Regions from separate parts of the Homo sapiens genome. Here regions 1, 3 and 4 are each linked to region 2. The links come from fine-mapping of genetic effects on gene expression. A gene starts in region 2. Each other region holds a variant in brackets. All regions are shown on one strand. Distances are from middle to middle.

Region 1 (8,106 bases), 87 kb after region 2:
AAGAGCTCAAGTTGGCTGTTTGGTGGAGAATGGTTTTGGTTTGGGCTCAAGGGAGAAGAGAATGTAAAAGTGGAGAGAGAGCTATTAGGAGGTTATTGCAGTGGTCCGAAAGAGTCTGGTGGCTTTAGATTACAGAAATAGTGATACAGATGGAGAGAAGAGATACTGATTTGACAGATATTTTTGTCTTGGTGATGTGGGGGCTGAAGGAGAGAGGTTTCATGATGCATAATTTTCTGACTGACGCAATGGAATGGATGGAGGTGTAGTTGACTAAGATGAAGAAAAAAGGAAGAGATTTTGTAGCAAGAGATTGAGAGCTTAGTTTGGAATATGCTATTCAGAAAATGTGCACCAATTTACATATTTACCTTTGTGTATGAGACTACATGGAAGGTTTATATTTAGAGGTGTGATCTGTACAGATTTGTGTTTTAGAAAGATTATTCTGGTGGTGGGATTCTGGAGACTAATTGCTTGTTAGTCTGTGAGCTTTTTGAATTGAGGAATCTCATCCTTATTTTCTCTGCCTTTGTATCCCCAGTACTTAGCAGGCAAATTGCTTGGCACATAGGTACACAATAAATAATGTTAAGAGAACCAATGCTGGTTGGGCGCGGTGGCTCACACCTGTAATCCCAGCACTCTGGGAGGCCGAGAAGGGCGGATCACTAGGTCAGGAGATCGAGACCATCCTGGCTACCAAGGTGAAACCCCGTCTCTACTAAAAATACAAAAACAAAATTAGCCGGGCGTGATCGCGGGCGCCTGTAGTCTCAGCTACTCGGGAGGCTGAGGCAGGAGAATGGCGTGAACTCGGGAGGCGGAACTTGCAGTGAGCCGAGATCGCGCCACTGCACTCCAGCCTGGGTGACAGAGCGAGATTCCGTCTCAAAACAAACAAACACACACAAAAAAGAACGAATGCTTATAGGTGAGACATGAGGTCTAGGTAGAAATGGATAGATTCTGGAAAAGTTTCCAAGATAGATTCCACAGGATTTGGATGGAAGATGGGAAAGTTCTCTCCCTTCGCGTAGCCTGCCCGTTGAACTTTTTGACAGGTCCGTTATGCCAGCAGGTCTAAATATAGGTAGCCATCAATTTATCAATGTTTTTTCCTCCTCAATATTTATTTGTTTGGAACTCCATAGATTAGAACTCAATGATATAATTATTATAATATTAGTAGTAGCTTGAAGTCCTCCATCACGCTAGTTCCCCTTTTCTGTCTGCTGAGTTGTCAATCCCAGAGCCCCTCTAATCCTGGCAGCTTTGGTGGTGGGGGAAGTTTCAGCAGCAAGAGGAATTTGCAGCAGTAGTTACTCCGTATGTAGAAGCTGTCCAGATGTTGAATATAAGTTGGATATTACGTATATGCTTTTCATTTTACAAATGGAGACATAAGCCCTAGAGAAACTTGTCAAAATACATGCAACAGGTCCGTGTAAACCCAGATTTTTCCGATACTGAACTGGTACTTAGGACAGTTGATTTCTTGACTGATCAACCAAATCCATCTCCATCTACTTTTTTCATTTTCCCTGATCCCTTATTGCAGAGTGATTCTATGTTAGTTTTAGTATTGCTTGATGCTGCCCACGCCTGCTCTTAGGCTCCTGTTGAATATGTGCACTTATGTGTGACCTTGTTCTTGTGTTGTGCCGATCACTACCAGTTTACATCACTTGTCTATCCTCTTTGCTTTCAAAATTGTTTGGCATATTGCCTCTCAGCATTTCTTTTCATTTTAAATTTCAAAATGGCATCTTTTATATTTTTTTCCTTGATTGCCATGACCAATGTGTATTAAACAATTGGTTTATCTCTTTTTATTGATACATAATAGATGTACATGTTTTCAGGGTACAAGTGATATTTTGATACATTCACATAATGTGTAATAACCAAATCATGATAATGCTATATCCGTCACCTTAGACATTTATCTTTTCTTTATGCTGGGAATATTTGAATTATTCTCTTCTACCTATTTTGAGATATATGGTAGATTATTATTTACTATAGTCACTGTACTGATTTATTGAACACTAGATCTTATTTCTTCTAACTGTATTTTTGTATTTTTGTTTTTTTTTTGAGACAAGGTCTCGCTGTCATCTAGGCTGGAGTGCAGTGGTGTGATCTCGGCTCATTGCAACCTCTGACTCCTGGATTCAAGCAATTCTCCTGCCTCAGCCTCCCCAGTAGCTGGGATTACAGGCACGTGCCACCATGCCTGGCTAATTTTTTGTATTTTTAGTAGAGATGGGGTTTCACCGTGTTGGCCAGGCTGACTAACTGTATTTTTGTACCCATTAATCAACCTCATTTCTTCCTCCATCCGCCTACCCTTCCTGGCTTCTAGAACACCGATTTACTCTCTCTTCATGAGATCCACTATTTTTTAACTCACTAACATTTGCAGCAACATGGATGGAATTGGAGGTCATTATGTTAAGTGAAACAATTGGTTTCACTTGCATTTTTGCAAGTTTACCAGATTAAAGTAGGCTGGCCTTATAGCAGCAATACCAGGTACTGTGGAATCCAAGTACCCACCACTTAGGTTGACAGCCTTGGGCCTTCTTTCTTTGCCTGTGTAGTGGGGGCATATGCAAGCACAAGGGCAGGGTGGGGGTGTGTAGCAGAGAAAGGGAACAGGTGAGGGTTTAAAAAGTGCATTTTCAAGAAATATTTTAAGAGAAATAAAGGAAGCTGCTTAAATTTTCATGTTGCCTAGAAGACTTTGAAATTGGGTCTAGGGTAAATTTCTTCTCTCTGTATTCAGTTCATTTTGGTTCTGATATTTTAGGACCAGAACTCATATTCCTTTTTAAAAAAGAAGCACTCTGGCTGAGCGCGGTGGCTCACGCCTGTAATCCCAGGCCTTTGAGAGGCCAAGGCGGGTACATCACCAGAGGTCTGGAGTTTGAGACCAGCCTGGCCAACAAGGCGAAACCCCGTCTCTACTAAAATACAAAAATTAGTGGGGTGTGGTAGCACGCGCCTATAGTCCCAGCTACTCGGGAAGCTGAGGCACGAGAGTTGCTTGCACCTAGGAGACGGAGGTTGCAGTGAGCCAAAATCACGCCGCTGCACTCCAGCCTGGACGACAGAGCGAGACTCTGTCTCAAAAAAATAAAATAAAAAGAAGCACTCCGTGGTGTTGCATAGAGTGTTGGTATATATTACATATATGAATGAGTTAACTGGCCCTTATCAGGAAGATGGATGGGAAGTGGGTTCTGGAAACCTTATTCTATACCACATCCTTATATATAGTCCTCAGTTATTGTCCCTCTGTGTTCTAGGGCACTGTGAGGTGAATGCTATTGTACACGTTTTATAGATGAGGAAACTAAGGCTCAGGAAATGTAAGTATCTCTCAGAAGGTCACACAGGTAATCACTGAAGGAGCTGTGCTCAAACCTAAGTCCTACAACTGGCAGAGTGTGGTTGCTCCCACCTGTAATCCCAGTGCTTTGGGAGGCTGAGGCGAGAGGATTCCTTGAGGCCAGGAGTTCACAACCAGCCTAAGCAACATAGGGAGACCTTGTCTTTAAAAAAATTAAAAAATTAGCTGGGCATGGTGTTGCATGCCTGTAGTCCCAGCTACATGGGAGGCTGAGGTGGGAGAATCGCTTGAGGCGAGGAGTTTGAGGTTACAGTGAACCATGATCTTGCCTCTGCATTCCAGCCTGGGCAACAGAGTGAGAGACCCTGTCTGTAAAGAATAAAATGAAATAAAAGTAACTACACCATTTCCCCATGTTTTCAGCCATATAAGTAACATTTGTCTCTTTTATTTTTCTTTTCTCTAATTTCAGAATATTTTATGGAACATGTAGTTATTCACTAATAAATCTAGTGGCTCAAAACTAAAAGAGATTGAGTATCTGGGATATAACTATCACTATATTCACTGGGAAAAGGTTTCACAAGGGATGTCAGGTAGGGATTTGGTGGGGAGAAGAGGCTGTTCTTTGGCTTTTCATGAAAATACAGTTGCCTGTATTTCTGTACTGAGGCCTTGTCAGTGGCTTCAGAGTCACCCCAAGGCTCCAAGTCTTAGCCTTGCATTCCTCAGAAGCAAAAAGACTTTAAGTACGCTGGAGTGGGAGCTGTGACAGTGGCTTAGATGATTGGGAATTGCCTTTTCCCATCTTAAGGCCAGGAAGCAAACAGTGTAACATTTCACAGCTGACTTTTAATTTTTAATGAATGTGTTTGGCTTCTGACTTTGTTAGCAAACAAATACATCTTAACTTGTCTTATGAGTTCTAGACTCTGGAATCTAGAGCAAAGGAAAAGTGCTTTAAGAAACATGAAATATTAACTTGGTGCCATTTTAAATCTTATATAACTTAGATCTTATTGGAGTTCCTTTATGAAAACTGTAACCTAAAATGGATATACCACATGTTAAGAAACCCCATTTACATCAGTTTAGGGTTTTCATTTTGTGTTTGACGTGACACTCTCCCACATGAAACAAGTGTG[C/T]GAATCATTTTTGTGTTTATTAGATACATGGCGGACCAACTATGTAAATCCATCTAGGAATGTGAAGGGACTAAATATCTTTTTAGAAGGTAAATCGGAGCTTGTGATAGCAATAAGGTATTGGGATAAAATTTCAGGCGGAGAGCACCACCTGGTGGTAATAAGGAGAATGTGAGCCTTCTGTTGCAGTATTTGCGATAGTAAATAAGTGATATCTTTGTCAAAAAATTACATTCTTATTTGTAATAATCATGAATTCAAATTTCTAAAACTAATTTTCTGCCACACAATTCTAGCATTCCTTCATTAAAACTGCTGTCAAAACCTTCAGGCTGGCCAGGCACAATGGCTCACACCTGTAATCCCAGCACTTCGGGAGGCCAAAGTGGGAGAATTGTTTGAGGACAGGAGTTCAAGACCAGCCTGGGCAACATAGTGAGACCTAGTCTCTACAGTAAATAAAAATATTAGCCAGGCAGGGTGGCACACGCCTATAGTCCCAGCTACTCCAGAGGCTGAGGCAGGAGGATCGCTTGAGCCCAGGAAGACGAGGCTGCAGTGAGCTATGATCGTGCCACAGCACTCCCTGTCCGGGTGACAGCGAGACTGCCTCTAAAAATAAAAATTAAAAAATTAAAAACCTGCTAGCTAACCAAATAATTGTCTGTGTCCTAAAGAACTGAAGTCTTGTGCTCGTTGTCGTTCCAAGCGTAGGCCCTGTTTATCTCTGTAGAAAATCAGTGTCTTTTCACCTCTTTATTGCATCCTCTAATTTTTATATCACACTTATTTTATGTGGTAAATTTCTGCCAAGTGGGATAATGGAGAAGGAAGTATTTCTGATTTTTTAGTAAGTTTTTGGCAGGTTTCATATAAGTCATTTTTCTTTCCTGGGTAAAAATTATGAAGAGGAGTATGATAATTTTTCAGAGTGATTATTAGGATGAGTAACACTGGCAGGGGATGGGAGATTCTGTAACAGTTTTGAATTAAAATTCATATTTGAGATTTCTTTTTTGTTGCTATAAGCATCTTTATTATTTGGCAATCTTGAAACAAGATACTTCAGTAGTTGAGTAAAGTAGGAACATCAGCCTAAGGGGAAAAGATCCTATTAAGTTAATGCGAATGCATATTTTATAGGCCTGGGGTTGGGGGGAAGATAAACACAGTTTCAATTACAGGTTGAGCCATGGACAAGCATGCCATATCTATCTTTTTTCCTGGTAGGAAAACCGAATACAGGCCACCACTAAAAAGTGGTGAATACAGGCCCATCACCACTAAAACGTCTCTTGGGAGAGGACTGTTTATGTAAGGTGCTCGGCCAAATAGAATATGACATGGCTTTGCACTCCTGGGATTTTTCTTAATATAAGTAACAGTCTTATAACATCTGCGTTTCAACACTCATATTAGCAGACACTGTAAAAAAATTGTACCATGCACAAATGCCCACTTATTATATAATTCTTTTTATATTAAATGCCCAGAATTGGCAATCCATAGAGATAAAAAGTAGATTCATAGTTGCCAGGGGCTGGGAGGAAGAGCTGGGAGAAAATGGGTAGTGCCTGCTAATGGGTTTGTGATTTCTTTTGGACTAATGAAAATGTTCTGGAATTAGATAGTAGTAATCATTGCACAACTGTGTGAATATATTAAAAACCACTGTATTGTACACTTAAATTTAAACTAAAGAAAAGCTGACACATGGAGGAATGAGCAGAGTCAATAAACAGGTGGTTATGGTAAAAATTATTTCACTTATGTTCTAGCAGAAATGTCTGATAATCTAATATTGTAGTTTAGGCCTTGAATGTTGTAATTTGTACTTTATTGCCCTGTTCCTGACTTTCACAGGGCCGCGATGGGCCTCTTGGAACATTGGTGTGTTCATCTGCATTCGATGTGCTGGAATCCACAGGAATCTGGGGGTGCACATATCCAGGGTAAAGTCAGTTAACCTCGACCAGTGGACTCAAGAACAGATTCAGGTACTTAGCCCAAGAGTGAGTCAGCTGCTTCCATATATCTATGTAAAAGGAATTCCAGATGAATTTCAGTCAAACCTGGCACAAAGGTGAAGATAAAGGAAAATTTAGTTGTTAAACACTTAACATCAGATTCTTGTACCCTAACAGAAATTTTTATTCTTTCTATTTAAGATACAAGTTATTCTACCTATATTTTACCTCCTTAAAAACAGAAATAGTCTACGGTCTAGGATTCCATGGGCCCACGAAAGTATTAAGAGGGATCTTTGGGTGATTTTCTAAGACTCTTAGCATTTGCAGGTCTAAAATTTATAGTTTCAAATATTCACTTTTGGTCGGGCACGGTGGCTCATGCCTGTAATCCCAGCACTTTGTAAGGCCGAGGTGGGTGGATCTCTTGAGTCTAGGAGTTCAAGACCAGCCTGGGCAACAGAGTGAGACACCTGTCTCTACAAAATAAAGAATTAAAAAATTAGCTGGGCCTGGTGGTACGTACCTGTAATCCCAGCAGTTTGGGAAGCTGAGGTGGGAGGATTGCTTGAGCCCAGAAGTTGAAGCTGCGGTTAGTCATGATCATGCCATTGCACTCTAGCCTGAGCAATAGAGTGAGACCCTGTCTCAAAAAAATAAATAAATAAAAATTCACTTTTTAAAAAAACCTCCAAATCATAGACTTATGGGAAAATTTTATTACTAAAATGCATACATGAATCTTTTTTTTAAGACAGAGAAAATATTTTAATGGTACATAATATTAAAATGTATCCATTTTTGTAAACTCATCATTTCTGATATTTTTAGACACATACAAATGTGGAATTAGATAACATTTAAAATTTCAAAAATTTTAAATAAATTTAAACATAATTAACCTTAAAAGTATATTAAATAGGACAATGTGTATATTAGATTTATTGTTATCATCTTTAAAAAGCTGTAACAGCTGGAATGCATACATGAATCTTGCATGCTGTTAGCTTGGTGGGCTTGGAGTGAGACTCCTAAGTTAATGAGTCTGGCTGGCCTAAGAGCTGTACCTTGATATAGCTTCATTATTTTTTATTCTCTTCCTACATTGAAACGCTTTAATTTCAATTTTTTCTTTCTTGGGAGTAAAAGGGAAGCCCCCCGCCCCCCAAATCCAGTTGCTAAAGTTGGTAATGGAAATCAGAGGTTACGCTTAACCAGAAAATGGCTTTAGAAATTGCTTTAGATTGTATTTATAGATGTATTAAAGGTCTAAAAAGGTGAGTTACATTTTTCAGTTACACTTCACTCTGTTTTATGAAGGAAATTATATGCCATGGAGATAGTCGGGAATTTGGAGATTTAAAAAGCTCTTGGGATTTATCCCTCACAAGTGTTAAGGAGTCTACTTAAAAGCCTAATGGGAAACACATTTATTGGAATTGATTAATAGTATAAACTCAGAATGATAACACTGATCATTGCCTGCCAAGTAGACATTTTAATTGGTAGCTGTGTATCTAAGAGTTTCAAATGAGATCTTGATTTATTACTGAATTGAATGTATCTTGGTACACAAATATTTCAGTAAAAGGAACCTATGGAGTGGGGGAAAGACAGCTTGGGGCAAATGATTGGG
Region 2 (8,106 bases):
CATAAGCCACCACGCCAGGCCATTGGCAACTTTTTCTGAGCCTTAGTTTCTCATCTGGGTGCCTCTCTGGGTGGATGTGAGAACTGATGCAACATAGAAGGCAATATGCCTTGTAATCGTTGCAGGGTGTGGATGAGTTTGAAGGGGTCCTGGTGACTGTCCCAGCCCTGGTCACACCTCATGAGCCAGCAGGGCAGAGGCAAGTCATGGGGGTTTCTCCTTTCTCCCATCTTTCAGTGACTGACCCAGTGTAACCCCCATCAGATGTTGTCCTCATGCCCCTGGGGCTGGCTGTGTTCAAGAGCCTGTGACCTTGGGGGCCCCCTGGGAGCTCTGTGGTATCAGCTAAATGATGTTTCTCTCCTGAGTCATGCCTGGGGCTGTGGGTAGGGGTCAGGGGAAGAGCGGAGGAAAGGACAGGGCACACAAGGACAGCCCCACCCAACATATTCAGCCTGATCCTTGGAGGCCAGAAATGTGAGACTAAGTCCTGACTGCTGAGGGGTAGCAGGAGGAACCTGCACCTCCCAGAAAGCAGACCCTCTCTCTGGACCCCGGTTGCCTGCAAATCAATGACCCTGGGTGAGAGTGAGGTTCCAGGAAGGTCACAAGTCATATCAAGGTGAGGGGGGCTCACAGCTGGAGAATCTCCATCCTGCTGCCCATCTCTGAACAGATCAGTGAAGATGCCAGAGCCAGGCCCTGGAGGTCAATTGGCAGAGCCCTACCCTGCCCCACCCGACACTCAGCTACTCACATCAATCCCGGGCTTCCCGTCTGGCCCATCTGGCCCAGCTTTGCCAGGCTCGCCCTTGGGTCCCTTGAAAACAGAGATGGAACAAACATGAGCCAGAGGAGGGCAAGAGCAGGAAGGGTCAAAGGCCAAAGAGGATAAAGCACTCACCGGAGGGCCAGCTTTTCCAGGGGGCCCATTGTCACCCTGCAAGATACAAGTTGGTGAGACAGCACACTACGGCTCACACTACCCCAAGTGGGCACACACAGGCCCTGGCAGGCCGCTCCCAAAGGCTCTCCTCACTCTCCTCTCTTCTGTCCAGGTCCCCTAAGCCTTGCAATCTTTGGGAAAAGAGCCCCCTTTTCCTCAAAAATAAAAACCAAAAACAAATCACAGGAGCATGAGAATAACCCTGGCCGGGCTGGAGAGGGTGACAGCAACATGCAAGAAGGTACAGACATGCTGATGTCATGAGGTGCCAGCTGTGAGACCCACTACCAGGGCTGGGGGCTCCAAGCTGATGCCTCTTGGATTTGGGCACGTGTGGGAGGAAGGTTGGGGCTTTTAGAGAAACGTGAAGGGGGATGAGCGAGTTGGGCAGCAGCTCTATTCCAGACTGCAGGGCAGGAGAACGGGAAGCTGAGCCAGTGGCAAGGACCAAGGGGGACTGCAAGGGGGAAATTCAGTGTTCCCAAGGAGGGAAGGACCTCCTTCCAGTGCCAAAGGACCCTTGGTGGTGGGCAGGCAGGGCCGGTAGAGTGCGATTCAGCCCCAGAGAGGCCTCCAGGCATTTCAGAGCCCTCAGCAGCCAGGGCCTGGCCGGGGGCCCAGCATCCTGTGTTTGGGGGGTGGGGGCACCAGGTTGAATAGAAGTCTGTCCAGACTGGTAAACATCAAGCGGCCCTCCTGCGGGAGCTTTCAGAATGAGGTATTTAACCCTCACCCTGCAGGGAACAAGCCCAGCTGATTCTAAATCGGGGAGAGAAAACCGAAGGGAAGAGACAGGAGTCTGGCCCAAGCTGGTCGGTGGTCTGGCCAAGGCTCCCAAGCGAACCTGAAGAAGCGTCCAGATGTGCCAGAGGCAGGGTGAGGGGTTGAGTCGCCTCCTACCCCACAAGGAGGGGAAAGGAGAGGAGGGGGATGAGGCCTCGCTGTGAGCTGCGGCCGGCGGACTGAACAGCAGCTCCTTGTCTGTCGGCGGCTATAACGGGCTCCGCATGTCAGGGCTGGTTTGAGGTTTTTGCAGAACAAACGGCGTCCTTGTGGTGCGGGCCGGCGCCGCCTATTGGCGACGAGGGGCACTACATCTCCGGGCACCCCGAAGTCCCCACCCCCACCACAGCGCTCACAAAGTTCTCCTTTGTCTGCCGCCTCCCTCCCGCCCTGGTCTCAGGTTAGAGACTTACGTCGATGCCGTCGGATCCAGGCACTCCCGGCGGTCCCGGGGGACCCGGGGGGCCCCGCTCTCCCGGTGGACCTCTCTGAAAAACACACACGGGGTGGGGCAGTCCTCAGACAGTGCAGGAAGCTGGGCGTCCCCGGGGCTGCAAGCGACCCTGGGAGCGGGGTCCTAGGGGCGCAGCTCTTCCGCGAACTCCCACGTATTGAGAATCTTCTGTATAGCAGGCACTGTGTGCCATTACATGCATTCATTATCTTACAGAATACTCAGAACCGGGAGGCGGGCGCTATTACGGGCCCCAGTTTGCAGTCGAAGAAACTGGCTCAGAACGTGAAGGGTCCATGGTCACTGAGAGTGGGCGGCGGCGCCAGGAGTCCGCCCTGGATCTGCCCGACTCCTTCCACTGTGCCAGTTTGCCCTTGCGCGGTCGCGGTGGGGAATAGATGGAGACGTGGACAGCTCAAATAAATCACAGATGGAATGTAAGGTTGTGCCTAGCAGGCTGCCGGCCCTCAGTGAGCGGTGGCTCGGGTTGTTGTTCTTACGTGAACGACAGGCAGAGACAGCGCCTCCTCCTCTCCCCATGGTGCGGGAAAACCCGACGGGAAAGTGGGGGAGGCGCAGAGAAAGGAGGTGTAGGGAGGTGAAGCGGGTACTATCTTCCCACTCGGAGCGCCCCTTCGGCAGCACAGCTGCCCGGTCCTCCCTCTGCTAAGCCCTGACTGCTGCAGGGGAGCAGGAGGAGCCGGCACCTCCCAGAAAGCAGACCCTCTCTCTGGATCCCGTTTGCCTGCAATTCAATGCCCCTGGGTGGGTGTGAGGTTTCAGGGAGGTCACAAGTCATATCAAGATGAGGCGAGCTCACAGCTGGAGAGTCTCCATCCTGCTGCCCATCTCTGAACAGATCAGAGATCTTAAAAGGCGGCCCTTTTAAGAGGCCAGCTCGGACCCAGGCAGGGGTCCCGGTGCCCACGACCTCCCCAGGCCGCGAAGTGCCAGGCTGGCGCCCCGCAGGCGAGCTCGAAACCACACCCAGCACCCGACCGGGCCCAGTCTCTGCCCTACCCGCGCGCCCGCAGCCCCCGGCGGCCCTCGGAAGGGAGACGTGGGTAGGCGGGCAGGGCCGAGAGGCCGCCTCGGGGCGACAGCGGCGTCTGGTTGGAGCCGGCGCCCCCTGGGAGGCGGCGGGGGCGGAGGCTGCGCAGCGGGTGAATGAGCACCATTGTATGCCCCGCCACCTGGGCTCCCCGGGCTGCCAGGACCGGGCGCCAGCTCCTGCCCCACGCTGCCTGTCCCGGGCCGGGCCGCGCGTCTGGGGACGGGTCCCGTTTGACTCTCCGGCTCAGCCACCTCCATTCACGGTGCCGCGATGGGCACCATGTATGCACCCACCGAGGGGACCTGCCCGCGGCGCTGTCCTCAGGTGGCCTCTCGGGCTAGGGGTGTCAGTAGGCGCGGGACACAGGCAGAGCTCCTCCATCCCGGACTCCAGACCCCGCACCCTGGACCCTGGCAGCGGAGGGGCTGCGAAACTTACAATCTGCGCCAGAGCGAGCACTACCACCTGGAGGAGAACAAGGAGGCTGCGGGGGGAGGCCGTAGCGGCGGCCATGGCTGGCGGCGAGACCAAGGGGGACGGGTGCGTGTCCGCGCACGCACCGACGGCAGAGTCTCCCGGCGCTCCTCCAGCGCTGGCTGTTCGCGGGCAGGGTGGGCTGGGGCTCCTGAATATGCGGGGGGCGGGGCGGGGGCCGGCGTGAGCTGTCACCTGAGAGGACCGGCGGGGTTGCCGGGAGGGAGGCCGGCGCCAGGCATCCAGCTCCGCCCCGCTCGGTCCAGCCTCCTGCGCCCACCCTCTGTCCTCGAGGGGCGACCGGGGTGCGGGTCGGAGATGATGGTCCAGTTTCTTTGTGAGAAGGCATAAGGCCGTCTGAGGTTCCCCTCGGGACCTTCAGGCCCCAGCACCTTCCCCCTGACGCACAGCCTGTGCCCCATCACTTACCCTACGTCCTCTCCAGGGCCCAGGCCGAGAGCACCTCGGGCTCTGCAGATCTTGCTGCAGGCTCTCCCCAGCTCCCGCCCACCTTGCTCCCCTCTCCTCTGGCTCCTTCCTCTCCAAGCACAAACAAACAGGCCTTTTCCATATTAATATGCCACAGTCCTTCCTGGATCAGCCGTCTCATGAATACTCCATCGGCCTCTTCCAGCTCTTTAGTGGAGCTGTGTGCACCTCCCCCACCCCCGAACTTCCTCACCTCGCTTTCACCTCCCTACTCTGTCCCAACAAGCAAATCTGTCTCCTGGAGGTCTGCAGTGAAGCCCAACCCTTCTTCGGTCCTCCAGGCAGGAAGCTGTTGGCATCTTCACCTGCCCTTGAAGTCTTCCCCATCCAAGCTCCTGCCATCCAGCTCCCCTTTTTCTATTGCCTTTAATTCTCTGCAGCTGCCTTAAGCACTGGTGTGTTTAGGATTGGGCCTTCTCACTCCATGTTCATAGAAACAACTACCACTTTATTCACCAGAGTTTCCGAACCCCGCTGTCCAGCATAGCCCGACTCCAGAGAGCCTTCCCTTCCCTCCCACTCACTTAGGCAATATTGGTAAAATGCTTTGGAATCTGACTTTTTCACAATTATAGATATGACCACAGGCACCCCAAACTCTATGAAGTCTCATTTTCCTCATCTGTAAAATGGGGATACTAATAGTCCATATATATATATATATATATTTTTTTTTTAAGACAGAGTCTTAAAAGGCTCTGGAGTGCAGTGGCACGATGTCAGCTAACTGCAACCTCGCCTCGCGGGTTCAAATGATTCCCCTGCCTCAGCCTCTCGAGTAGCTGGAATTACAGGCATGAGCCACAATGCCTGGCTAATTTTTATATTTTTAGTAGAGATGGGGTTTCGCCATGTTGGCCAGACTGCTCTTGAACTCCTGACTTCAGGTGATCTGCCTGCCTCAGCCTCCCAAAGTGTTGGGATTACAGGCATGAGCCACCGTGCCCAGCAAATTGTCCTTATCTTAAAGGGTTTTTGTGGAAATTGAATGAGATGACTCATGCGAGGCATTTAACCTCGAACCAGCACATAGTAGGTGCTTGATACATTTTAGCTTTCCTTATGATTTATGGATGACTGTTTTACTAGGTTGGCATCCAATGTGGGGAAGCTGGCCACAGGCAGATCAGCTAAAATGATGAACCTAGTTGAAGCTAGAAAAGTCCAACTCCATTGGGCAGGTTAGCAAAGGGCTCTGGATTTTGAAAGGTTGTCCTGGAGCTGAGTTTGGGAGAAAGAGCTTGAGAGAATGTAATTGCTCTGCCTAACAGAGTGAAGAAGAATTTGAAGTTTGTTGGAAGATGAGAGCAAGAGGAGGAGGATGTAAGAGAGGGATGGTGGGCATTGCTTGGGGTGGGTGGGGTAAACCTATAAAGGATTTTTAGAACTGGGATGTCCAAATTCAATTTTAAGTTGTTTGTTTCACATCACTTATCTCTCCATCTTTTGTGGGCTAACCACAAGAAAGGCCTTGTGTGAGTAAGTTTTCTTTTTGTGTGTGGAAATTATGGAAAGAGGATGAGTTTCACAGTCTGGACAGCACACATTGATGTATTAATTACCTGTTGCACCATAACAAATCACCCTAACATTCAGCAGCTTAAAATGACAATTTCTTTGGATTAGGAATTTGAGAGTGACTCTGCTGGTTCGGTCTGGCCTGGGGTCTGTTATAAGGTCATAGTCAGATGGTGGCTGGGCCTGATGTCACCTAGAAGGCTTCTTCACTCACATGTCTGATGTCAGTACTGGGAAGCCTTCAACCGCTGGGGCCGGAACAGCTGGAGTTGCTTGGACAGTTCTCTCCTTTATCTCTTTGTGGGCTTTCCATGAAGTTTCTCCAACATGGCAGCTTCAAGGTAGCTGAACATCCTCTATAGCAGCTCAGAGGGAGTAGGAGAGCACCAGACTGAAGAGAATTGCCACTCAGGACCCGTCCTTGGAAGTCATGCAGTGGCACCTTCACCACATTCTTACTGTTGAGGCAATTGCAAAGGTCTGCCCATGATCAAGGGGAGGGAACAGAGACCCCACCTCAAGGATGAATGTTAATGTCACATTTTTTAATTTTTTTTTTGAGATGGAGTCTTGCCCTGTCACCCAGGCTGGAGTGCAGTGGCGCAATCTCAGCTCACTGCAACCTCCGCCTCCTGGATTCAAACGATTCTCCTGCCCCAACCTCTGGAGTAGCTGGGATTACAGGCGTACGCCACCACTCCCGGCTAATTTTTGTCTTTTTAGTAGAGATGAGGTTTCATCATGTTGGTCAGGCTGGTCTCGAACTCCTGACCTCATGATCCGCCCGCCTCGTGATCTGCCCGCTTTGTCTTCCCAAAGTGCTGGGATTACAGGCATGAGCCACCGCGCCCAGCCAGTGTCACATTTTAAGAAGAGAATAAGGGATAAAATTTATTTATTTATGTCTTTCTTTCTTTCTTACTTTTGAGACAAGGTCTCCCTCTGTCACCTAGGCTGAAGTGCAATGGAGGAATCACCACTCACTGTAGCCTCAAGTTCCTGGGCTCCTGATCCTCCCACTTCAGCCTCCTGAGTAGCTGGGACTACAGGCATGCACCGCTGCACCCAGCTAATTTTTTATTTTATTTTATTTTACTTTGAGACAGAGTCTTGCTCTGTTGCCCAGGCTGGAGTGCAGTGGTGTGATCTCGGCTCACTGCAACCTCCATCTCCCGGGTTCAAGCAATTCTCTTACCTCAGCCTCCCGAGTAGCTGGGATTACAGGCGCCTGCCACCATGCCTGGCTAATTTTTGTATTTTTAGTAGAGACAGGGTTTCACCACATTGGCCAGGCTGGTCTCCAACTCCTGACCTCAAGTGATCTGCCCACCTCGGCCTCCCAAAGTGCTAGGATTACAGGCGTGAGCGACTGCACCCAGCCATGCACCCAGCTAATTTTTTATATTTTGTAGACACAGGGTCTTGTCATGTTTCCCAGGTTGTCTTGAACTCCTGGGCTCAAACAATCCTTCTGCCTTGGACTCCCAAAGTGCTGGGATTACAGGTGTGGGCCACTGCACCCAGCCTGGGGATGCAATTTTTATTATTGATGCAACCATCTTTGGAAAATACATCCTGCCACACTTGGGGTTATAAACTGAACCAATCCAGTGGTAGCTGAAGCTTAAAGCTGGAGCCAATCAAGATAAATTTTAGGCCAGGCAAGGTGGCTCACGCCTGTAATCCCAGCACTTTAGGAGGCCGAGGCAGGCAGATCATCTGAGGTCGGGAGTTTGAGACCAGCCTGACTAATATGGAGAAACCCCATCTCTACTAAAAATACAAAATTAGCCGGGCATGGTGGTGCATGCCTGTAATCCCAGCTACTCAGGAAGGCTGAGGCAGGAGAATAGCTTGAACCTGGGAGGTGGAGGTAGCGGTGAGCTGAAAGCACGCCACTGCACTCCAGCCTGGGCAACAAGAGTGAAACTCTGTCTAAAAAAAAAAAAAAAAAAAATTATATATATATATATATATATATATATATATATATATATATATAAATTTTAGGGAAGGCTTTGGACCACAAGACATGGACTGGAGGTTCCAGCCAATTGCATATGGGTGTTTGTTTGTTTTTGGAAACAGGCTGGAGTGCAGTGGCACAATCTTAGCTCACTGCAGCCTTGACCTCCAAGGCTCAAGTGATCCTCCCACTTCAGCCTCCTCAGTAGGTACTTCTTGCATAGGACTCTTAAAGCACAGGGAGACCCTGAATAAGTGGAGAGTCATATATCTACATTTCTGTATAAGAAAACTCCATGTTGGCCAGGTGTGGTGGCTCATACCTGTAATCTCAGTACTCTTGAAAGCTCAGGCAGGAGAATCACTTGAGGCTAGGAGTTCAAGACCAGCTGGGGCAACACAGTGAGACCCCTTTCTCTACAA
Region 3 (8,106 bases), 48 kb after region 2:
CATTTCTAGACACACCCTGGGTCAGAAGGGAACCCACTGCCTTGAAGGGAAGAACCCAGTCCTGGCAGGATTCTTCACTTGTTCACTCAAGAGCACTTGGGCCCCGAATGATCAGCAGCAGTACCCAGGCAGGACTCACCATGGGCCTTGGGTGAGACTCAGAGATGTGCTGGCTTAATGTGTGACCCAGCACATTCCCAGCTGTGGTGGCTGCAGGAATGGACTCCTTCTGCTTGAAAAAGGAGAAGGAAGAGTAAAGGGAACTTTGTCCTGCAGCTTAGGTACCAGATTGACCAAGTGGGCCCTTGAGGTCCCCAATTCCAGACCTTAGCTCTTAGATGGCATTTCTGGACCTTCCCTGGGCCAGAGGGGAGCCCACTGCCCTGAAGGGAGAGTCCCACACCTCGCAGCATTCACCACAAGCTGACCAAAGAGCCCTTAGGCTTTGAATGAACATCAGCAGAAGCCAGGGAGTACTTTCCGTGGGCCTGGGGCACTGGTGGCCACAGGGAGAGACTCCTCTGCTTGAGCAAAGGGAAAGGAAGAGGGGGAAGGACTTTGTCTTGTGGCTTGGGTGCCAGCTCAGCTGCTATAGAATAGAGCAACAGGTTGATTCCTAAGGCTTCTGACTCCCGGCTTGATTGTGCTGTCATTTTTGACAAAGTGTGCATGGGAGATAAACTGGTTAGGATTCCAATAGGAAGCCTGTGGCCAATGCAAAAGAGGCCAGTGAGGAGCGTTTAAAGAAGGGACCATTTTGTAAAGTGTGGGAAGGGTGAAAGAAAATCAACCAAGGGCATGATGTATCTTGGGGCGAGCAAGTGCAGATGGCTGTTGCCCTCAAAGCCTGAAGAGGCCAGGGGAGAGAGTATGACCAGAATGTGATGTGAGCCCTCGCTGTAGGAGAGGGCCACCATCACAGTCAAGAGGGCCACTGTCGCAGACACTTTGACTGTCACTGGAGGGGGGCAGTAGCTCTGCCAGTAGGGAGAAAGCAGAGAAAATAAATAACTCGACTTCTCTCTCCTCTTGCCCTCTGATTTCCCACTGTTCTTCCCATTGGTTGAACACAACCAAAAGCTGGTGTGCAGAGAAGCCAGGTTGATGCCATCTATCAAAGTTGTCTCTTAGACCTCAGAGCCAGTTGAAGGGCTGAGAGAGGATGTGGAAGCCAATGGAACACAGCCAGCGCAGGAGGCAAGATTTTGAAATCTATGGTATGTGAAACTGTCTTTATTCAACACTGCCTCTAGAATAGTAGTTTGGGTGGTACAGAATTCTGGGTTGGCAACTCTTTTTTTTCTCAGAATTTTGGAGGCAAAGTTTCATTGTCTCCTGGCTTCCAGTGCTACTGTTGAGAACTCCATGCTATTCTCATTCCTGATTCTTTTTCATGTGATTTGTTTTTCCTCTCTGGAAACTTCAGATCTTGCCTTTTCCCCCAGTGTTCTGCCATTTCACATTGATATGCTCTGGTGTGGGGCAATTTCCTATCATTACACTACAGAGTTCTTGGAGTAGGCCTTGGTCAGTTATACTTGCTCTGTCCCTCGTAAGCACCAAATCCAGAAAATAGAGCATTCAACACAGGAAAAAGAGGAAGGCTATTCCCAGGATGATAGTGAAGGGGAATTCCAGGGTGATGATTACATAGCAGCAGGCCTCCTCCAGCTTGGAGCAGCAGGGCAGAAGCTTCAGGATGGACAGCGCCAAGAATAATGAAATTTATAGCTTAGCTGATGTGTTAGAACTCACTAAGAGGAAATTCTCTTCTGTCAGAGTATTAGGAGATGAATTAATCATAGGTTCATAGAAAATTAAGCACTCCAAAGTGGAGCAATTATTGACTCCAGGAAAAACAAAAAGTTTAACCAGGAAAAAAATGCAATCAATGAATACAAAGCACAACTGTCAATAATATTAAGTCATAATATTATAAATATTGAGCATTAATTTAACAAAATATTGTCATTTAACTATACTAGGAAAATGTGGGAAAGGAAGTCTGGGGGAGTATATATAAAGAAATCTAAATCTTCATCTTCCATAGCAGGAAGTGAATAAGCAAAGCTGGGAAGGTAAATCATGGTGATAGAAACATGTTATTTGGGCAATACATAAATTGTAGAAGAAACAACTATAAGAGTTGAAAATGGTTGTCTCAGAGGAGTAGGGACCAGTGTGGGCAGAGATGGGGCAGAGGATTACTGTTTGTCATTATAAGCCTTGTATAATTACTTGACTTTTAAAACTATGTGCATGTTTTTACTTTGATTTAAAACTTAAAAAAAAAAATCTAATATCTAGGAAGGCAGAGCAAGATGGCCAAAAATAGAAGACCTCACCAATTGTCCTCCCCACAGGAACACCAAATTGAACAACTATCCACACAAAAAATCACCTTCATATGAACCAAAAATACAGTGAGTAATCACAGTACCTGGTTTTAACTTCATATTACAGAAAGAGACACTGAAGAGAGTACAAAAGACAGTCTTGAATTGCTGATGCCACTAACCCCTTCCCCACCAGCAGCCGTGTGGATCAGAGAGAGAACTGGTGTGCTTGGGGGAAGGAGAGTGCAGTGATTGTGGGACTTTACATTAGAACTCAGTGCTGCCTTGTCACAGTGGAAAGCAACCCTGGGCAGAACTCAGCTGGTGCCCCCAGAGGCAGCATTTAGACCAGCTGTAGCCAGAGGGGAATCACGAAGCTCACTAAGCTTAGTCTCACCAAGCTCATTTGCATGTGACAAATAACACTGAGCTCATAGTAAAACAGGGAGCATAATTATCCAGCTTTCTAAATGAACAGGTCATTCTATGAGTGTTATCTGGTATAGGTAAAGTGACTGGCCAGTGAATCAGAAACTGATTAACATATGGCTTAAGAGATTTTGATCTCTTAGCTATAAGATACACTAATGAGAGTTTCCTGTGGCAATAGTCCAAAAATGTTCACCATACCTCTTTCTTGGTAGTAATCTGGGCATTTTATTACTGTGGCTTCTCTAGTATAGTGGTTTTTATTTTGTCCTTATTTATGTGAGTTGGGGTTTCAAAATACTCTGATTTAAAGAAAAAAAAGAGGGCAAGCAAGGTGGCTCACACCTGTAATCCCAGCACTTTGAGAGGCTGAGTGGAGAGGATTGTTTGAGGCCAGGAGTTTGAGACAGCCTGGGCAACATAGCCAGATCCTATTTCTACAAACAGAAAATAATTTATTAAAGAAAAATAAGATGGGCCAGGCACAGTGATTCATGCCTGTAATCCCAGCACTTTGGGAGGCCAAGGCAGGAGGATCGCTTGATTCCAGGAGCTCAGGACCAACCTGGGCAACATGGTGAAACCCTGTCTCTACAAAAAATACACAAAATTAGCTGGACATGGTGATGTACGCCTGTAGTCCCAGCTACTCAGGAGGCTGAGGTGGGAGGACTGCTTGAGCCTGGGAAGTCGAGGTTGCAGTGAGCTATGTTCGAGCCTCTGCACTCCAGCCTGGATGACAAAGTGAGACCCTGTCTCCAAAAAAAAAAAAAATGGCTCAAGGCTGTGGATATCCTCCACAGGGACATCAAGGTGCTGAAAAGCTCAATAAGAATAATAATCGGTCAAACAGCTGTCAAAAAGTATAATGTCTTTTTAGCCTCAGAGTCTCTGATCAAGCAGATCCCATGAATCCTTGGCCCAGGCCTAAATAAGGTGGGTAAGTTCCCTCCCCTGCTGACACACAACAAAAACATGGTGGCCAAAGTGGATGAGGTGAAGTCCACAACCCAGTTTCAGATGAAGAAGGTGCTATGTCTGGCTGTGGCTGTTGGCCATGTGAAGATGACAGACGATGAGCTTGTACATAACATTCACCTGGCTGTCAACTTCCTAGTGTCATTACTCAAGAAAAATTGCCAAGACATTCAAGCTTTATATACTGAGAGCACCGTGGGCAAGCCCACGTGCCTGTATTAAGCCACATTCTAGGCTCATGCCTGTAACCTCAGCACTTTGGGAGGCCAAGGTGTGAGGATCATTTTAGGCTATGAATTCAAGACCATCCTGAGCAACAAAGCAAGACTCCATCTCTATTTCAAATAATTTTTAAAAGGCACATTCTAATAAATTCTACTGCCACCAAAGCAAAACAAAACAAAATAAAAACAATAAAGAGAAATTATCTGGAAGCTGAGTATGAAATGTGGTATCAGGATTCTTCAATTCATTCCAATTTTCTGAAATCCATTAGATACAGTGCAACCAAACTATGCTCAGTGGCCACTGGGACAGATAGAAAATTCTATAACTGGATACATTCGGGGAGGAGCCAAGATGGCCGAATAGGAACAGCTCCGGTCTACAGCTCCCAGCGTGACCGACGCAGAAGACCGGTGATTTCTGCATTTCCATCTGAGACCTGCAGCTGAGGGTCCTGTCTGTTAGAAGGAAAACTAACAAACAGAAAGGACATCCACACCAAAAACCCATCTGTACATCAC[C/T]ATCATCACAGACCAAAAGTAGATAAAACCACAAAGATGGGGAAAAAACAGAACAGAAAAACTGGAAGCTCCAAAAATCAGAGCGCCTCTCCTCCTCCAAAGGAACGCAGCTCCTCACCAGCAACAGAACAAAGCTGGATGGAGAATGACTTTGACGAGCTGAGAGAAGAAGGCTTCAGACGATCAAATTACTCTGAGCTACGGGAGGACATTCAAACCAAAGGCAAAGAAGTTGAAAACTTTGAAAAAAATTTAGAAGAATGTATAACTAGAATAACCAATACAGAGAAGTGCTTAAAGGAGCTGATGGAGCTGAAAACCAAGGCTCGAGAACTACGTGAAGAATGCAGAAGCCTCAGGAGCCGATGCGATCAACTGGAAGAAAGGGTGTCAGCAATGGAAGATGAAATGAATGAAATGAAGCGAGAAGGGAAGTTTAGAGAAAGAAGAGTAAAAAGAAATGAGCAAAGCCTCCAAGAAATATGGGACTATGTGAAAAGACCAAATCTACATCTGATTGGTGTACCTGAAAGTGATGGGGAGAATGGAACCAAGTTGGAAAACACTCTGCAGGATATTATCCAGGAGAACTTCCCCAATTTAGCAAGGCAGGCCAACGTTCAGATTCAGGAAATACAGAGAACGCCACAAAGATACTCCTCGAGAAGAGCAACTCCAAGACACATAATTGTCAGATTCACCAAAGTTGAAATGAAGGAAAAAATGTTAAGGGCAGCCAGAGAGAAAGGTCGGGTTACCCTCAAAGGGAAGCCCATCAGACTAACAGCGGATCTCTCAGCAGAAACCCTACAAGCCAGAAGAGAGTGGGGGCCAATATTCAACATTCTTAAAGAAAAGAATTTTCAACCCAGAATTTCATATCCAGCCAAGCTAAGCTTCATAAGTGAAGGAGAAATAAAATACTTTACAGACAAGCAAATGCTGAGAGATTTTGTCACCACCAGACCTGCCCTAAAAGAGCTCCTGAAGGAAGCGCTAAACATGGAAAGGAACAACCCGTACCAGCCACTGCAAAATCATGCCAAAATGTAAAGACCATCGAGACTAGGAAGAAACTGCATCAACTAACGAGCAAAATCACCAGCTAACATCATAATGACAGGATCAAATTCACACATAACAATATTAACTTTAAATGTAAATGGACTAAATGCTCCAATTAAAAGACACAGACTGGCAAATTGGATAAAGAGTCAAGACCCATCAGTGTGCTGTATTCAGGAAACCCATCTCACGTGCAGAGACACACATAGGCTCAAAATAAAAGGATGGAGGAAGATCTACCAAGCAAATGGAAAACAAAAAAAGGCAGGGGTTGCAATCCTAGTCTCTGATAAAACAGACTTTAAACCAACAAAGATCAAAAGAGACAAAGAAGGCCATTACATAATGGTAAAGGGATCAATTCAACAAGAAGAGCTAACTATCCTAAATATATATGCACCCAATACAGGAGCACCCAGATTCATAAAGCAAGTCCTGAGTGACCTACAAAGAGACTTAGACTCCCACACAATAATAATGGGAGACTTTAACACCCCACTGTCAACATTAGACAGATCAACGAGACAGAAAGTCAACAAGGATACCCAGGAATTGAACTCAGCTCTGCACCAAGCGGACCTAATAGACATCTACAGAACTCTCCACCCCAAATCAACAGAATATACATTTTTTTCAGCACCACACCACACCTATTCCAAAATTGACCACATACTTGGAAGTAAAGCTCTCCTCAGCAAATGTAAAAGAACAGAAATTATAACAAACTATCTCTCAGACCACAGTGCAATCAAACTAGAACTCAGGATTAAGAATCTCACTCAAAGCCGCTCAACTACATGGAAACTGAACAACCTGCTCCTGAATGACTACTGGGTACATAACGAAATGAAGGCAGAAATAAAGATGTTCTTTGAAACCAACGAGAACAAAGACACAACATACCAGAATCTCTGGGATGCATTCAAAGCAGTGTGTAGAGGGAAATTTTTAGCACTAAATGCCCACAAGAGAAAGCAGGAAAGATCCAAAATTGACACCCTAACATCACAATTAAAAGAACTAGAAAGCAAGAGCAAACACATTCAAAAGCTAGCAGAAGGCAAGAAATAACTAAAATCAGAGCAGAACTGAAGAAAATAGAGACACAAAAAACCCTTCAAAAAATCAGTGAATCCAGGAGCTGGTTTTTTGAAAGGATCAACAAAATTGATAGACCGCTAGCAAGACTAATAAAGAAAAAAAGAGAGAAGAATCAAATAGACACAATAAAAAATGATAAAGGGGATAGCACCACCGATCCCACAGAAATACAAACTACCATCAGAGAATACTACAAACACCTCTACGCAAATAAACTAGAAAATCTAGAAGAAATGGATAAATTCCTCGACACATACACTCTCCCAAGACTAAACCAGGAAGAAGTTGAATCTCTTAATAGACCAATAACAGGAGCTGAAATTGTGGCAATAATCAATAGCTTACCAACCAAAAAGAGTCCAGGACTAGATGGATTCACAGCCGAATTCTACCAGAGGTACAAGGAGGAACTGGTACCATTCCTTCTGAAACTATTCCAATCAATAGAAAAAGAGGGAATCCTCCCTAACTCATTTTATGAGGCCAGCATCATTCTGATACCAAAGCCGGGCAGAGACACAACAAAAAAAGAGAATTTTAGACCAATATCCTTGATGAACATTGATGCAAAAATCCTCAATAAAATACTGGCAAACCGAATCCAGCAGCACATCAAAAAGCTTATCCACCATGATCAAGTGGGCTTCATCCCTGGGATGCAAGGCTGGTTCAATATACGCAAATCAATAAATGTAATCCAGCATATAAACAGAACCAAAGACAAAAACCACATGATTATCTCAATAGATGCAGAAAAAGCCTTTGACAAAATTCAACAACCCTTCATGCTAAAAACTCTCAATAAATTAGGTATTGATGGGACGTATTTCAAAATAATAAGAGCTATCTATGACAAACCCATAGCCAATATCATACTGAATGGGCAAAAACTGGAAGCATTCCCTTTGAAAACTGGCACAAGACAGGGATGCCCTCTCTCACCACTCCTATTCAACATAGTGTTGGAAGTTCTGGCCAGGGCAATTAGGCAGGAGAAGGAAATAAAGGGTATTCAATTAGGAAAAGAGGAAGTCAAATTGTCCCTGTTTGCAGATGACATGATTGTATATCTAGAAAACCCCATTGTCTCAGCCCAAAATCTCCTTAAGCTGATAAGCAACTTCAGCAAAGTCTCAGGATACAAAATCAATGTACAAAAATCACAAGCATTCTTATACACCAACAACAGACAAACAGAGAGCCAAATCATGAGTGAACTCCCATTCACAATTGCTTCAAAGAGAATAAAATACCTAGGAATCCAACTTACAAGGGATGTGAAGGACCTCTTCAAGGAGAACTACAAACCACTGCTCAAGGAAATAAAAGAGGATACAAACAAATGGAAGAACATTCCATGCTCATGGGTAGGAAGAATCAATATTGTGAAAATGGCCATACTGCCCAAGGTAATTTACAGATTCAATGCCATCCCCATCAAGCTACCAATG
Region 4 (8,106 bases), 22 kb after region 2:
TGTTTAATATAGAAGGTGCAATTATCCTCAGCAAACTCCTGTTGATCCTTAAAGACACCACATCCAGAAAGTCTCTCCAGGATCAACAAGCTGGATTAACACAGAGAACATGAGTGAAAACTATTTTTATTTTTTTATCCTACAAATATTTGTTGAGGACGTTATGTGTCAGGCCTGTAGTGTGAGAAGATAATTAAATGATGTCATCATGAAGGCAGCAGCTAAGAACTACCATTTATTATTATTATTATTATTATTATTATTATTATTATTATTTTCATTATTTGGAACCAAATCTCACTCTGTTGCCCAGGCTGGAGGGCAATGGCACGATCTCAGCTCACTGCAACCTCGGTCTCCTGGGTTCAAGCGATTCTCTGCCTTAGCTTCCCAAGTAGCTGGGACTACAGGCCTGCACCACTACGCCTGGATAATTTTTGTATTTTTAGTAGAGATGGGGTTTCACCATGTTGGCCAGGCTGGTCTTGAACTCCTGATCTCAGGTGATCCACCCGCCTCGGCCTCCCAAAGTGTTGGGATTAGAAGCGTGAGCCACTGCGCCCGGCCGAGAACTACCACTTATTATTAATGGTGATCATTAATTTTTTTTTTTTGAGACGGTGTCTTGCTTTTGTTGCCCAGGCTGGAGTGCAATGGCACGATCTCGGCTCACTGCAACCTCTGCCTCCCGGGTTCAAGCGATTCTCCTGCCTCAGCCTCCCGAGTATCTGGGACTACAGCTGTGTGCCACCAAGCCCAGCTAATTTTTTGTATTTTTAGTAGTGATGGAGTTTCATCCTGTTAGCCAGGATGATCTGGATCCTCTGACCTCGTGATCTGCCTGCCTCGGCCTCCCAAAGTGCTGGGATTACAAGTGTGAACCTCACCCAGCCTATCTTCAGAACTTCTATCAGATTATTTTGAAGGTGTGTGAACATATTTTTATTTGTTTGTTAAACCTTGAAGGTGGATTGGATTTGAGAAATAGCTACTAGTTGTTCAAGACCAAGTTGGGTGAAAGATAATGGGTCAGAAATTATAATCTGGTAGTCCTCAATTTTCTTTGATTTGCTTATAATGTTTTTTGAGATGGAGTCTCACTCTGTTGCCCAGGCTGGAGTGCAGTGGTGTGATCTCGGCTCACTGCAACCTCTGCCTCCTGGGTTCAAGCAATTCTCCTGCCACAGCCTCCAGAGTAGCTGGAATTACAGGCACCCGCCACCATGCCTGGCTAATTTTTTTGTATTTTTCATAGAGACAGGGTTTCACCATGTTGGCCAGGCTGGTCTCGAACTCCTGAACTCAGGTGATCCTCCCGCCTCAGCCTCCCAAAGTTTTGGGATTACAGGCGTGAGCCACCACGCCCAGCAGTGACTGTTAATTTTGTGTACTGATTTTACGTGTCATCTTGACTGGACTAAGGGATATTAGCTGGTAGAACATTATTTCTGGGTGTGCCTTTGAGGGTGTTTCTGGAAGAGTTAACGTTTGAATCAGTAGACTGAGAGCAAAGAAGATCCACCTTCATCTATGTGAGTGGGCAGCATCCAGTCCATTGAGGGCTTGAATAAAAAGGCAGAGGAAGGGTGAATTCTCTCTGTCCTTGAGCTGGGACATCTATTTTCTCCTCCCCTTGGACATCGGAGCTCCTGGTTCTTGAACCGGTTTCCCTCCCCAACCCCACTCTCAGGCCTTCCACTGGGGACTAAATTACGCTACCGGCTTTCCTGGTTCTCAGCTTGCAGACAGTTTATCATTGGACTTCTTGGCCTTTGTAATCGCATGAGCCAACGCCCGTAATAAATTTCCTCTTACGTTATCTATATATATCCTATTGGTTCTGTTTCTCTGGAGAATCCTGACAAATACAACAATAATGCTTATCATTTAAATATTTATATTATCATAATTATTGTGTTTATAACAATATTTATTAAGCACTTGCTATATGACAGATATTGTATCAGTGTGGTACATGCATTTTGTCTTTAACTCCTCACAACCGCTCAACGAGGTAGGTCCCTTGATTATCCTCATTTTATTTATTTATTTATTTTTAATAGAGAAGAGGTCTCACTATGTTGTCCAGGCTGGTCTTGAACTCCTGGGCTCAAGCGATCCTCCCACCTTGGCCTCCCAAAGTGCTGGGATTACAGGCGTGAGCCACTGTGCTGGGCCTATCCTCATTTTATTTACAAGAAGACTGAAGCTTAGAGGTGTGAAGTGATTTCCCCAAGGACACACACCTGTTTTCCCACAGTTTCTAGCTCTGGATAGGTCTCAGTAACATACATTTTCCCCACTTTCCACTACAGCCACAGCATAGGGTTGTGCATTTTAGGATCTGCACAAAAAGGGAGGACAGAGGAGTGGGGCTGAGACCCAGCCTGGAGATGTTTGCCGCAATATTTTATTTTGCTGGTTCTAGCTTTCTTAGAGAACTCTTAGGATCTTCTGTTTGACTTGAGCCCTGGGCTGCTCCAGTTTACACTCCTCAGATCTCTAAATTTATTTATTTATTTATTTATTTTTTGAGACCAGCTCTGACTGTTGCCCAGGCTGGGGTGCAGTGGCGCCATCTCGACTCAGTGCAACCTCTGCCTCGTGGGTTCAAACCTCAGCTCCTGCCTCAGCCTCCTGAGCAGCTGGGATTATAGATGTGCACCACCACGCCCGGCTAATTTTTGTATTTTTAGTAGAGACGGGGTTTCACCCTGTTGGCCAGGCTGATCTCGAACTCCAGGCCTCATGTGATCCACCTGCCTCTGCCTCCCAAAGTGTTGGGATTACCGGCGTGAGCCACGACGCCCGGCCAAATCTCTAATTTCTAACCTTCCAATCTTCCAGTCGTTTCTTCCCACCTCCGATAGGAAGGAGAGGTGGGCTGCAGGGCAGGAAGAAAAGGCCCAGCTCCCTTCCCCACCAGTTGCTCCTTTAGACCGACTCCAGGTGAGCAGTAAATCAGGCTGGCTGGTGCTCTGGCGGCACCTAGTGGTCCTCTGCGGCAGCACACCATGATGACAGCTTGACAAGACGAATTAAAAGCCCCTTTCTCCAGGAGCTGCTAGCGAGATGAAACGGGCATAGAGGCAGATAAAGCACTGTGGGAACCCAGCGAGGGAGCAGTCGTGGTTTCTGGGGAGTTAGAACTTAGAATTTGGATTCAGCTAGACTTGGATCCTGGTTCTACCACATACTGACTGTGACCTTGGGCAAGTCATTTCATCTCTTTAAGCCTCAGTTTCCTCATTTGTGAGATGGGGAGAATAGTGTCTCTTGATGACCATGAAGTACTTAGCACAGTGCCCAGAACGCTTTGGATATTTGTTTTCGGCAGAAGGGAACTTCGTTTTGTTTGTTTGAGATGTAGTTTCGCTCTTTCGCCCAGGCTGGAGTGCAGTGTCGCAATGTCTGCTCACTGCAACCTCTGCCTTCCGGTTTCAAGCGATTCTTCTGCCTCAGCCTCCCAAGTAGCTGGGAATACAGGCGCCCGCCACCACACCCGGTTAATTGGCAGAAGGAACTTTGTAAGAAAGGCAGGGAGTGGGATGAATGTTCAGAAAACAGAGTAGGTGACAGATGATCCCCCTTCCCTGCTAGAGAAGAGCAAACACAGCTGGTCAGTCCCGTGGAGCAAGTTGGGGCAGGGGCTGAGTCTCTTAATTACAGCACAGTGAGACGACCTAGAACCCCTTCCTGGAAACAGCTGCCCATTCTGGGCTGAGCCAGAGTGCTAAACAGGTTTGCTCACCTGGCCTCTGGCTGCCCTCTTATGCCTGGCAGAAAATACCAACCATCAGCTTCCCACAGGTGCTTCTCTCTCCAGCTAGAACAGAGCAACTCCAAACTCCTCAGAATTGCCAATCCTGACCCTGGTTTCATCTGACCTCCCACTTGTTCCATCTGATTCCTTCCCAGTGCTGGTCCAACACTGATAAGCTTTAGTGTCCGCTTACATGAACTACACTCTCCTGGCTTTCCTCCTACCTCTCCAGCTGTTCTTTCTCAGGCCCCTTGCAGATTTCTTTTCTCTGCACACCCTTACTTAGCACTCTACAAGGTCCTGTCCTATCTTCTTATTCTTTATACTCTTCCTGGGCCATCTTATCCATCGGGTTGACTTTAACTGCTGCCTATATGTTTTCCTGAGTCTCAGACCTGCTTATCCAACTGCTTCTCAGATGTTCCACAGGCACCACCAA[A/G]CTGACATGTCCCAAATGAAATTATCTTCTTGCCCACAAACCTGTTCCTCTTCCTGTGTGGCCTACACAGCCAGTGGTCCCACCCTCTGCCCTATTGCATAAGCCAAAACTATGGATGTCATCCTGGAGAAGAGACTTCCCTCTCTCCTCCCCGAGAAATATTATCGCCTTGTCCCAGTGACTATACCTCATAGGTGTTTAATCCATCCACCTCTCTCCATCCCCACTGCACCTACCTTATTCAGCATACCATCCTCTTTTGCTTGGGGGTATTGCAACTGCCTCTTATTTTAACTCCTTGCTTCCAGTTTTGCTCCATTGTTTTTCCTCTGTGTTCCTTTCTGGAGGCTCAAGGAGATAACTCATTGCCCAGCCTTTCCCACCTTCTAGAGGCTTCCCACATTTCTTGGTTTCCCCTTCCTCCATCTTCAAAACCAACAAAGTTACATCTTACTGACCATACTATAGTAAAATCTCCCTGTGCTTCTCTCTTCTGTCTTCCCCTTCCACTTTTTTTTTTTTTTTTGATGGAGTTTCACTCTTGTTGCCCAGGCTGAAGTACAATGGTGTGATCTCGCCTCACTGCAACCTCCGCCTCCCAGGTTCAAGTGATTCCCCTGCCTCAGCCTCCTGAGTAGCTGGGATTACAGGTGCTTGCCACCACGTCTGGATAATTTTGTATTTTTAGTAGAGACGGGGTTTCACCGTGTTGGCCAAGCTGGTCTTGAACTCCTGACCTCAAGTGATCTGCCTGCGTCAGCCTCCCAAAGTGCTGGGACTACAGGCATGAGCCACCACGCCCGGCCCCCTTTCCACTTTTAAGGACCTTGTGATTATATTGGGCCTATTAGGTAATGTAGGATAATCTCCCTGTCTCATAATCCTTAATTTAATCAATTCTTCAAAGTCCCTTTTTGCCATGTAATGTAACAGATTCACAGGTTCTGGAGGCATCTTTGGTAGATCATTATTCTGCCTACCACAGACCATTCTCTGGCCCCAGTATTCATACCTGTCTCACGAACAAAATGCATTCACCTTATTCCAAGGTCCCTAAAAATCTCAGCCCATTAAAGTATCAACTCAAAGTTCAAAGTCTCATTTAAATCTCATTAGCTCAAGAGTTTCAGATTTATCATGGATATTATCTAAATTAGGTTTTGGATGAGACTCAGCATAATCTATCCTGGGGCAAAGTTTCTCTCCACCTGTGGACGTGTGAAACTAGAAAATAAGCTTCTGCTTCCAAAATACGATACTGGGTCTAGCATAGGATAACACTAATAGACATTCCCATGTAAAAAGAGAGAAAGGAAGAAATAGAGGAGTCACTAGTCCCAAGCAATTTCAAAATTAAGTTAGACAAACTCCATTAGGTTTCAAAGCCTGGAAATAATACTTTGCAGCTCAAAGCTCTGCCCTCTGGGATCACAGCTCTGTCCTCTTAGTCATTCTTCCTTTTTCATGAAAGGTTCAGCACATGGCTGCAGCTGGGTGGTTTTATCAACTTGTTTCCTGCCTGTAGAATTTGGGGGATCTTATAGCCTTCTTTCATTTCATACCCTCTCTATCCTGTACAGTCCAAGCTCAAGTGTTTCTGCTGGTATAAAATTCTCAAGAACCCCGTGGATCTCTCATGTATGTCACTCCATTAGACAAAATGCTCCTTTGCAGATCTTCGCTTGATAAGCCCGTTTCTATTTCTGTCTTCTGTTGAGGTAGCTGAGGGGATATATGAGTCTCACACTTAATCTCTTCAAAAAACCTCTTATGTGACAGAATACTCTGAACTTTTTTTTTTTTTTGACAGTGTCTTGCTCTATTGCCCAGGCTGGAATTCAGTGGTGCAACCACAGTTCACTGCAGCCTTGACTCTCCAGGCTCAAACAATCCTCCCACCTCAGTCTCCCAAATAGCTGAGACTACAGGCAAGCACCACCTACCCAGCTAATTTTTGTTGTTGTTGTTGTTGTTGTTGTTGTTATCTGTAGAAATGAGGTCTCCCTATGTTTCCTCAAGCTGACCTTGAGCTCCTGGGCTCCAGCGATCCTCCCTTCTCAACCTCCTAAAGTGCTGGGATTACAGGCCTGATACTCTGACCTTTTGATCTTTCTGAGGTATTAGCAAAAGGTTGTCCAGCCACGTTCTTGGCTTTTTCTCTAAAGCACACTTTCCTGACAGTGAATTTCATCATTTTAACGTCTTTTGCATCTGAATAGGCTGAGAATTCCCCCAATCATCAAGTTCTGTTTCATTTTTTGTTAAACATTTCTCTCAAATTATCTGTTTCCTCTCACATTTTACTGTAAGCAGCAAGAAGAAACCAGACCACACCCTTCAACACTGCCTGGAAATCTCCTTAGCTAACTACCCAATTTCATTGTTTTTTTGTTGTTGTTGTTTTCTTTTTGAGACAGGGCCCCACTCTGTCACCCAGGTTGGAGTGCAGTGGCACGATCTCGGCTCACTGCAACCTCCACCTCTGGGGTTCAAGCAACTCTCCTGCCTTAGCCTCTCTAGTAGCTGGAACTACAGGTTCCTGCCACCACGCCTAGCTAATTTTGTATTTTTAGTAGAGATGGGGTTTCTCCATGTTGGCCAGGCTAGTCTTGAGCTCCTGACCTCAGGTGATCCACCCGCCTCAGCCTCCCAAAGTGCTGGGATTACAGGCATGAGCCACCTTGCCCGGCCTCAAGTTCATTGTTTATAAATTCTGTGTTTCATATAACTTCAAGGAACTGGATAAGCTTTTTGTCACTATGTACCAAGGATCCTCTTTCCTCCAGTTTCCCCTAACATATTCCCCATTTCTTTCTCAGCCGTCACCCATAGCACCTTTAACAGCCATATTTCTTCCAAGTCCGTTCATGTTCTCTAAATTGGTTGATATTTTCTTGACTCTGCTCATTACTGATTCCAGAGTCCTCACTGTCCAAGCTGTTAGCATTCACATTTCTCCCAGCAGTCTGATCAAGGCCATACAGGCTTTTCCCATCATGCTCCTCAGTGTTTTTCCTGCCTCCTCCCAAAGTTCAGTTCCAAAACCACTTCTACATGTTTAGGTATTTGTTACAGCAGTAACATAATCTGTATTCGTTTTCTGTTACTCCTGTAAGAAATTACCACAAATGTAGTGGCTTAAAACAATACAAATTTCTGGCCAGGAATGGTGGCTCACACCTGTAATCCCGGCACTTTGGGAGGCCAAGGCAGGTGGATCACAAGGTCAAGAGATCGAGACCATCCTGGCCAACATGTTGAAACCTCGTCTCTACTAAATATACAAAAATTAGCTGGGCATGGTGGTGGGTGCCTGTAATCCCAGCTACTTGGGAGGCTGAAGCAGGAGAATCGCTTGAACCCGGGAGGCGGAGGTTGCAGTGAGCCGAGATCACGCCACTGCACTCCAGCCTGGTAATAGAGCGAGACTCCGTCTCAAAAAAAAACAAAAAACAAAACAAAAAAACCCCAACCAAACAAACAAACAAAAAAAACACAATACAAATTTGTTACTTCTAGCTCAGTAGGTAAGAAGTCCGAATGACACGGGGCTAAAATCAAGACGTGAGCAGGGCTGCACCCCTTTCCTGAGGCTCTAGGGAAGAGTCTATTTCCTTTCCTTTTCTCTTTTCTAGAGGCTTTCTGCATTCCTTGGCTTGTGGCTCCCTTCCTCCATCTTCAAAGTTAGCAATGTGACATCTCCTTGACCACTCTTCCACAGTAAAATCTCCTTTGCCTCTCTCTTCTGTCCCTACCTTCCACTTTAAAGGACCTTTGTGATTACATTGGGCCCATCTAGTTAATCCAGGATAAACACCTCATCTCAAAATTCTTAACAACACCTGCAAAATCTCCTTTGCCATGTAAAGTAGCATATCCATAGGTTCCAGGGATTCGTATGTGG

Alleles and levels. Positions count from the first base shown, and alleles are read on the strand shown. Sizes are in standard deviations (SD) of each study's normalised expression. Not every link is listed here.
With allele C in place of T in region 1, the expression in activated CD8 T cells of the gene that starts at base 3,839 in region 2 is lower (large effect, 1.3 SD a copy in Schmiedel 2018).

Evidence for each region.
Region 1: its variant is fine-mapped to the expression of COL9A2 in activated CD8 T cells (Schmiedel 2018, PIP 0.95).
Region 3: its variant is fine-mapped to the expression of COL9A2 in whole blood (TOPMed, PIP above 0.99).
Region 4: its variant is fine-mapped to the expression of COL9A2 in whole blood (TOPMed, PIP above 0.99).

Annotation. Positions count from the first base shown.
Region 1 is chr1:40,400,370-40,408,475 of GRCh38, forward strand. It overlaps SMAP2 (small ArfGAP2), which reads left to right. Exons shown (of 10, transcript NM_022733.3): 2 at 6,367-6,500. Among named protein-coding and RNA genes, the nearest start is that of SMAP2, 31 kb to the left of the region's middle. The variant C/T (reference allele first, on the strand shown) is at 4,504.
Region 2 is chr1:40,313,448-40,321,553 of GRCh38, forward strand. COL9A2 (collagen type IX alpha 2 chain) reads right to left here and starts at 3,839. Exons shown (of 32, transcript NM_001852.4): 1 at 3,676-3,839; 2 at 2,143-2,217; 3 at 905-940; 4 at 758-820. The coding sequence starts at 3,750. RefSeq lists enhancers at 1,654-1,913, 2,697-3,333, 3,334-3,970 and silencers at 2,084-2,143, 2,154-2,253, 3,014-3,523.
Region 3 is chr1:40,361,220-40,369,325 of GRCh38, forward strand. It overlaps a transcript of SMAP2 not described here. Among named protein-coding and RNA genes, the nearest start is that of SMAP2, 8.5 kb to the right of the region's middle. The variant C/T (reference allele first, on the strand shown) is at 4,490.
Region 4 is chr1:40,335,900-40,344,005 of GRCh38, forward strand. No RefSeq gene overlaps it. Among named protein-coding and RNA genes, the nearest start is that of COL9A2, 23 kb to the left of the region's middle. The variant A/G (reference allele first, on the strand shown) is at 4,203.